2 linked regions of the Homo sapiens genome follow. Changing the gene in region 2 together with the main gene of any one other region gives a genetic interaction. Each region holds a gene or a part of one and is shown on either strand. Other genes may lie near its edges. The genes, in order: MAP4K1 and UCK2.

Region 1 (3,813 bases), on a different chromosome or scaffold from region 2:
TGGAGCCGAGATCTCCAGCTGAGATAATTTTTGTATTTCTACTGAAAATACAAAAATTAGCCAGCTGTGGTGGCGCATGCCTGTAGTCCCAGCTACTTGTGAGGGTGAGGCACGAGAATCGCTTGAACCTGGGTGGCAGAGGTTGCAATGAGCCAAGATTGTGCCACTAACACTCCAGTCTGGGGAACAGAGCGAGACTCCATTTCAAAAAGAGGGAAGGAACTGAGTGAGCAAAAATAAATAAATAAAAATACTAAAGTGTAAGGGCAAAGTCTGACACAGTATTCTGTGAGATAAACACCATTTTCCAAATGAGGACAGTGAGGCACAGGAAGGTTAAGTCATTTGCCCAAGGCCACTCAGCTGAATTCCAACCCAGACAGTCTTGTCTTAACTATCCATATATCTCTATAGTGGTCCCCATTTTACAGTTGGGGAACAGAAGCTTAAAGAGAAGCAACGTTGCCAGCCCAAGGTCACAGTAGTGGCCCAGGATGAGATTGGGACTCAAGAAATCCAAGAGCAGCCAGGTGCAGTGGCTCACACCTGTAATCCAAGCCACTTGAGAGGCTGAGGAGGGAGGATTGCTTGAGCCCAGAAAGTCAAGGCTACAGCTAGCTATGGTTGCACCACTGCACTTCAGCCTGGACAAGAGAGAGAGACCCTATCTCCAAAACAAACAGGCCGGGTGAAGTAGCTCACGCCTGTACTCCCAGCACTTTCGGAGGCTGAGGCGGGCAGATCACTTGAGGTCAGGAGTTCGAGACCAGTCTGGCCAACATGACAAAACCCCGTCTCTACTAAAAATACAAAAATTACCTGGGCATGATGGAGTGTACCTGTAATCCCAGCTACTCGGGAGGCTGAGGCAGGAGAATCACTTGGACCCAGGAGGCAGAGGTTGCAGTGAGCTCGGATCATGCCACTGCACTCTGCCCTGGGTGACAGAGCGAGACTCTGTCTCAAAAAATATATAAAAATGGCCAGGAGTGGTGGCTCACACCTGTAATCCTAGCACTTTGTGAGGCCAAGGAAGGCAGATTGGCTGAGCTCAGGAGTTTGAGACTAGCCTGGGCAACATGGTGAAACCCTGTCTCTACTAAAAATACAAAAAAATTAGCTAAGCATGGCGGCATGCACCTGTAGTCTCAGCTACTCAGGAGGCTGAGGCAGGAGAATTCTTTGAACCTGGGAGGCAGAGGCTGCAGTGAGCCGAGATCGCGCCACTACACTCCAGCCTGGGTGACAGAGCAAGAATCCATCTCCAAAAATAAATAAATTTTATCTATCTATCTATCTATCTATCTATCTATCTATCTATAAAATAGGCCGGGTGTGGTGGCTGACAGCTGTAATCCCAGCACTTTGGGAGGCCAAGGCGGGTGAATCACCCCAGGTCAAGAGTTCAAGACCATCCAGCCTGATGAACATGGTGAAACCCCGTCTCTACTGAAAATACAAAAATTAGCCAGCTGTGGTGGCGCATGCCTGTAATCCCAGCTACTTGGGAGGCCGAGGCAGGAGAATCGCGTGAACCCGGGAGGTGGAGGTTGCAGTGAGCCGGGATCGCACCACTGCACTCCAGCCTGGGCAACAAGAGTGAAACTCCGTCTTAAATAAATAAATAAATAAAAATAAAATAAAAAATAAATCCTGGGGCAAAGAAGGGGATCTATCTGAACTGAAATTTGGAAGATGTTTCCCCTCCAGGACTTCACACTCTGACTCAGGAGTTCTCGGAGCCCATCTGATGAATGTCATGATGGAGGCTGGGGGGCAGTGATGTGGAGTTTGGATGGAGGGGCTTACCTGATCCGAGCCTAGAGCCCACACCTGCACTCCATGCTTCCAGAAGGCCTGAAGCTGACCTCCAACCATAGCTGGGGAGAAAGCAATGCCCGTTACCCTTGGGGATCACTTGAGTTTCCACCCCTGATCCTGGGCTCTCCCGTCCCTGCACAGACCCACGGCCTCCACCGCTTCGGTCATGGGGATCTCAGGTGTGCGAAGTCCCCGGACTGGGGACCCCTCCGGGGTCACCAGCTTCACAGAGCCTGGAAGGAGATAGACGGTTTTAAGAACTGTGAGCAAGGCTTAGAGGGTTACTAAGGGACCAATCCATAAATTCAGTGTGAAAGCTATGTAGGACAGGGGCAAGGCCCAGAGGGGCTCAGGGGGTTCTGAGAAGCACAAGTTCGGAGGCAGAGATCTAGGGACTGCAGCTGGAGGGGTGGGGAGGAAGGGGAGGAAGGAGGGTTCTCACCATCCATCAACACCATCACCATATCTTCCTCTACCTGGGTCACCTGCACGGGTCCCCTGTGCTCTGTTTGGGGGGAGTGGGTTAAGGATTGACCCCACCCCATTCCCCTTTCCCCACACCACCCCCAGAAGGCCAGTACCTGTGCTTTAGCCACCGCCTCAGTTCACAAGCAAGTGGGCTAAACCCCGCCCACCATCCCGGTCCCACCCCATCATCAATCTCCCCAGTTAACTAAAACCTGCCATTCTCCCTTCTCCGCCCTTCCAGCCCTTTCTCAGTCCCGTAGTGCCTCAGGCTAAGCGAAGCCCCGCCTCCAGCTCCGCCCCTCCGGATCTGATAAGCCCCGCCCTCAGCAAGACTCCGCCCCACTCACCGGTGCTCATCTCGCCCAGCCAGCAAGAGAGCGCGCCAAAGCGCACCGTGTGGAAGAGCACCGACTTCCCCGGCCGCCCGGGGCTCACGCCGATGCACACAGCGGGCAGCTCAGAGCCTGGCCCGGTCAGCAGCGCGAACACGGACAGAGGCGTCGGCAGTGGGAACAGCACCTGCTGCGGGCCGCACAGGGAGGGGCGGGCTAGGGGGTGGTTCAGGACGGGGCCTCAGGGGGCGTGGCTTGTAGCTGGCCTGGGACTTCCGAACCAGGGCCCTAAGTCTTGGGGGATGCCGTCTAGAAATGTCAGGGGATAAGGCCTGGTGCCTCCGCGGGAACGGGGGTCGTGACCTCCGAGTGGGTGTGGCTTCCATGTGGGGGCATGCCACCTTGGCGGCAGACGGGCAGGGCCCCAAAGATAGCAAAACCTGCTTAGACACTCAAAGAGACAGGCTCTAAATGGGCTCTACTAGGACACCCAGGGAGTGGCAGCATTGAGCCTGAGGAATAATTAGGCCCAGGTGTGAGGGGCGGCGCTTAAGGATCAGGATGGCTTCAGAAGGACGAGGCTCCAAGCGCAGACCGCAGGTGGGCGGGGCCTCGGGAGATTGGGGCGGGGCCTCGACGGAGGTGGGGCTTCATGGAGCTCTTGATAGAAGCGCAAAGGGTGCAAGGCCTTAGCCACCCACTCCTCAGAGTTCCCAGCACCCTCCCAAGCCCCTTACCCGGACAAGCAGGAATTTGTTCATGGGCTGGTACCACTGAAGCAGGACAACGGACGTCTCCAATGCACCGCACAGGAACGGGCCCCCAGAGCTCGCACCCTCCGCTGTGGCATGGGCAAGGATGAGTCAAGATCAATGCCCTCTATCCTCCTCGCCACCCACACTACCACCCATCTTCTGGGTTCTGGACACATTGCCTTAACTCTGTAACCTTCTCAGGTGGATGCAGTTCAAGCCCCTCCTCTGGCCTGGCCCCGCCCACTCTCTGCACACCCGTGAAGCTCTCTCTCACCCACACAGCACGCCCGGCAGCCTTTGGTGTCCTGGATCTTGGTGGAAACCATGTTCTTCCTGGAGAATAGGTAGGTGTGAAGGGGGGTAGGACAGCAGGAGGCAGAGGGGCATGGGAGGAATTATAAGGCTGTGTGGTGCCATTCATTGGGAGCTGGTACCTT
Region 2 (3,813 bases):
GGAAGTCCCGAGAGTAACCAAGCTGATGCACACCTTCCAAGAAGGGGCTCTGGAAGGAAGAATCCAAAGGCAGCTATCGTGCATGATGAGTTAAAGGGCTAAGGGATGCAGCCATAAAAAGAATAAGATCACGTCTCATGTGGGAACATGGATGGAGCTAGAGGACACTATCCTTAGCAAACTAACACAGGAACAGAAAACCAAATACTGCATGTTCCCACTTGTAAGTGGGAGCTAAATGATGAGAATGCATGGACACAGGGAGGGGAACAACACACACTGGGGCCTGCTGGAGGTGGCGGGTGGGAGGAAGCAGAGGATAAGGAAAAATAACTAATGGGTACTAGGCTTAATACCTGGGTGATGAAATAATCTGTATAACAAACCTCTGTGACACAAGTTTACCTATGTAACAAACCCCTGAACTTAAAAGTTAAATTAAAAAAAAAAAAAAAAAAAGGCTAACGGAGAAGAGTCCGCCTTACACGCCTGTGACAGAGAAGTCTTAGGATCCCCAAAGTTCCTTCCTCCCTTCCCTTAACACAGCTTACTACTGTCAGGTACTTGCAGTGATGGTGGGGGAAGGAGGGCAGCACACACCACCTCCTCCTCCAGAAGAGCCTTTCCCAGAGCCACTGATAAAGGTAGGGCTACCTGATCCTGTCTGCTTGTGCCCTGGTATAGACAGACAAAAAAGGCAGCAGAAAGTAGAATGAAGGCATGGTGATGATGTGCTGAGGGGCTACAGGGCCTTGGAATCACAAGGTGACTGCACATCCATGGAATGCCACTCAGCCCCTGCACATCTCTTTATATCAACGGAACCAAAAACCATGGCCAGAGAGCTCAGCTAGTTAGCAAGAAGGCTATGCTCACAGCGTTAATCCTACTTCTGTTGGTTACTTTTGCTCCAGTCCACAGCCATGACTTCACATCTACAGTAAACCAGGTGGCCTTTTCACAAACGTGTGTCACCACAGACAGGGTGACAAGGAACACAAACACCACCAACATCTAAAACAACTTAGGAGTATCCCAAACAAGAGTGGAGAAGCCAACTCCAAATGAACTCAAACCTACATGCTTTGTGTGTTGTTGTTAGTAATACATGTATCCTAAAATTTAAAAAAAAGAAAAACAGATAGTAATACATGTGTCTGCCCCTTTTTCCCTTCAATATACTCTTCGTAAAAGGAACATTATGAAACAAGTGCATTCAATAGAATGAGATAGTGAAGGATTGTATTTATCAAATAACTGATTTCTTTTTTCATTTCATACAAAGACTAATGTAAAAATAAAAATGTCTGTATTACACAAGCTGTAGGAGACATAACCCAAGTCTTCTAATGAAACTGATTGACCTGCCGGGCACGGTGGCCCATGCCTGTAATCCCATAACTTTGGGAGGCTGAAGGGGGTGGATTGCTTGAGGTCAGGAATTCGAGACCAGCCTGGGCAACACAGTGAGACCCCATCTCAAAAAAAAAAAAAAAAAAAAAAAAGAAGAAGAAAGAAACTGGTCAACCGAATAAATAGAAAGGAAAAACAGCATATTTAGGCCAGGCAGGGTAGCTCACACCTATAATCCCACAGTTTAAGAGGCCAAGGTGGGTGGATCACCTGAAGTCAGTTTGAGACTAGCCTGGCCAACATGGTGAAACCCTGCCTCTACTAAAAATACAAAAATTAGCCAGGCATGGTGGCACATGCCTGTAGTCCCAGCTACTCGGGAGGCTGAGCCAGGAAAATCGCCTGAACCCAAGACACAAAGGTTGCAGTCAGCTGAGATCGTGCCATGTACTCCAACCTGGGCAACAGAGTGAGACTGCATCAAAAAAAAAGAAAAAAGAGAAAAGAACAGAACAGAACAGAACAGAAAAACAGCATATTTAGAGGTTTGATGACTCAAATCTTAGAAGTTTTACTATTGAATTTATTTCATCAACGATTTTAACAACAACAACAACAAAAATATGAAATCTTTTAAAGTTACAATTCTTATAAAGTTGTGTTTGATTGCCCTGAGCGTAAGGAAAACTGGCCATTCCTGTTGCACAAGTCAGTGCAAACTAAACAGCTCTGCAAAATACGTCCTGTTATACAAGCTGTGACACACGACTAAGTAAGGATCTTTGGAGGAACAATAATATTTTGACTCAATTATTTGCAAACAATTTATTTCGCCTTCATGATACTTTTGCATATTAACACAGAAAAACATTTAAAACTACTCTGGACTTTGGGACCACAGATCCTCCCATGCCCCAAAATATCACAGAACAGTAAAACTTTCATATGATAAACTAGATTCAAAAGTGAAAATGTTACAAAACCAAGGCTCTCTGGGTGCTACAGATGGATGGGTGGGGGGGGAAATCAAAGGCTCTAAGCAATTATAAACTATAGGTTTTTAAACACCTGTAGGCCCTCAATTTCCTTTTCCTCCCAGGCATCTATCTTAGGACGTTTCTTACGTCCTAAGGTTGTAGGAAGATAAAGTCTGCAGCCTTTATTAGTAGATAGAATTCCTCCTAGAATTCCAAAGAACAAAAACAAAAAAGTGATTCACGAAGCCAAATGTATATTATCTAGTTATTCAAATTGTGATATTTTTATTTATATTTAAAACCCATAAAATGTTTTTAATGTAAATAGCAATCCCATCACCATCAAAAAAGCATATTAAAAAGTTACACTACCTAATTTTGCAGATAAACTACTGTTTCCCTTAACCCAGCACAATCTAGGACAGAACCTGTACAATGGCCAGTAAAATGGGATAATGAACATACAGTAGGTGCAATTCTAGAAAATCAGCGCTCATCCCAACCCTTGATCAATGATACAGTATGACTAATTGTGTTGATCCCCCGCTGCATGTTTCAGTCCTGTGTTTTCAAGGACCTGGCTGGTGACCCTTCCCTTCCACAAACACACTACCACTGCTAACAGTGTAAATGATTACTTATTAGGCAGCAGTCCCTGTGCCAAACACTCCATTATGACCACCTTTAGAAGCCACATGTGCTCTCCTACATGGATGAGGAAACCAAGTTAAGTAATGTGGTTTCATAGAGTCCTGGCTCTTTACCTCAACCTTAGATAGTAAGAAGTCCCAAGGCAGAAGAAGCCCTTTATCAGGAAGGAGATAAATAAAATTGCACAAATAAGCAAAGAAACACCTGCCTCTAGGTTAATCTAGATTGTTCAGGCATTTTCTTCCTCCTGGGCCATATTACAAATGGGCCCTAAAAAATCCGGATAACTGTTGAATCTGGCTGACATGTACATAGGGTTTGGTTATATCATCCTCTCTATTGTTGTGTAGGTTTGAATTTTTACCTGGTAGGGAAGAAGGCAGGGAGGGAAGGAGGAGTCCCACAAAGAGACTCTACTCTGCCCTGAATAAATGCTCTTTCGCTTACTTAACACTCACCTCTGTATCTCTTTCACTATCATCTCTGTGTTCTCCTTTTGCCTAATCCTGCCCCTCTCTTCAAAAGGATGAAATGGAGCTCTGAGGTGTCATCTTGTTCCTTAAGAATAATTCAGCTGGGCACAGTGGCGTGCACCTATAATCCCAGTGACTTGAGAAGCTAGGGCAGGAGGATCACTTGAGCCCAGGAGTTCAAGCCCAGGGTGGGCAACACTGTGAGACCCCACCTCTACACAAATTCAGAAATTATCTAGGCATGGTGTTTGTGCCTGTAGTCCCAGCTACGTGTGGCAGGCTAAGGCAGGAGGACTGCTTGAGCCCAGGAGATCAAGGCTGCAGTGAGCCATGATCATGCCACTGCACTCCAGCCTGGG

The links.
Region 1: changes in UCK2 (region 2) and MAP4K1 together harm fitness less than expected from each alone (positive genetic interaction), as found in Homo sapiens cells (one large-scale study listed by BioGRID).

The regions. Positions count from the first base shown.
Region 1 is NC_000019.10:38,593,676-38,597,488, forward strand, and holds part of MAP4K1 (mitogen-activated protein kinase kinase kinase kinase 1), read right to left. Parts: coding exon 3,811-3,813; intron 3,721-3,810; exon of another isoform or gene 3,710-3,720; coding exon 3,651-3,709; exon of another isoform or gene 3,578-3,650; intron 3,463-3,577; coding exon 3,359-3,462; intron 2,812-3,358; coding exon 2,637-2,811; intron 2,327-2,636; coding exon 2,264-2,326; intron 2,055-2,263; coding exon 1,965-2,054; intron 1,881-1,964; coding exon 1,810-1,880; intron 1-1,809. UniProt on the Homo sapiens protein: Serine/threonine-protein kinase, which plays a role in the response to environmental stress. Appears to act upstream of the JUN N-terminal pathway.
Region 2 is NC_000001.11:165,886,335-165,890,147, reverse strand, and holds part of UCK2 (uridine-cytidine kinase 2), read right to left. Parts: intron 1-3,813. UniProt on the Homo sapiens protein: Phosphorylates uridine and cytidine to uridine monophosphate and cytidine monophosphate. Does not phosphorylate deoxyribonucleosides or purine ribonucleosides. Can use ATP or GTP as a phosphate donor.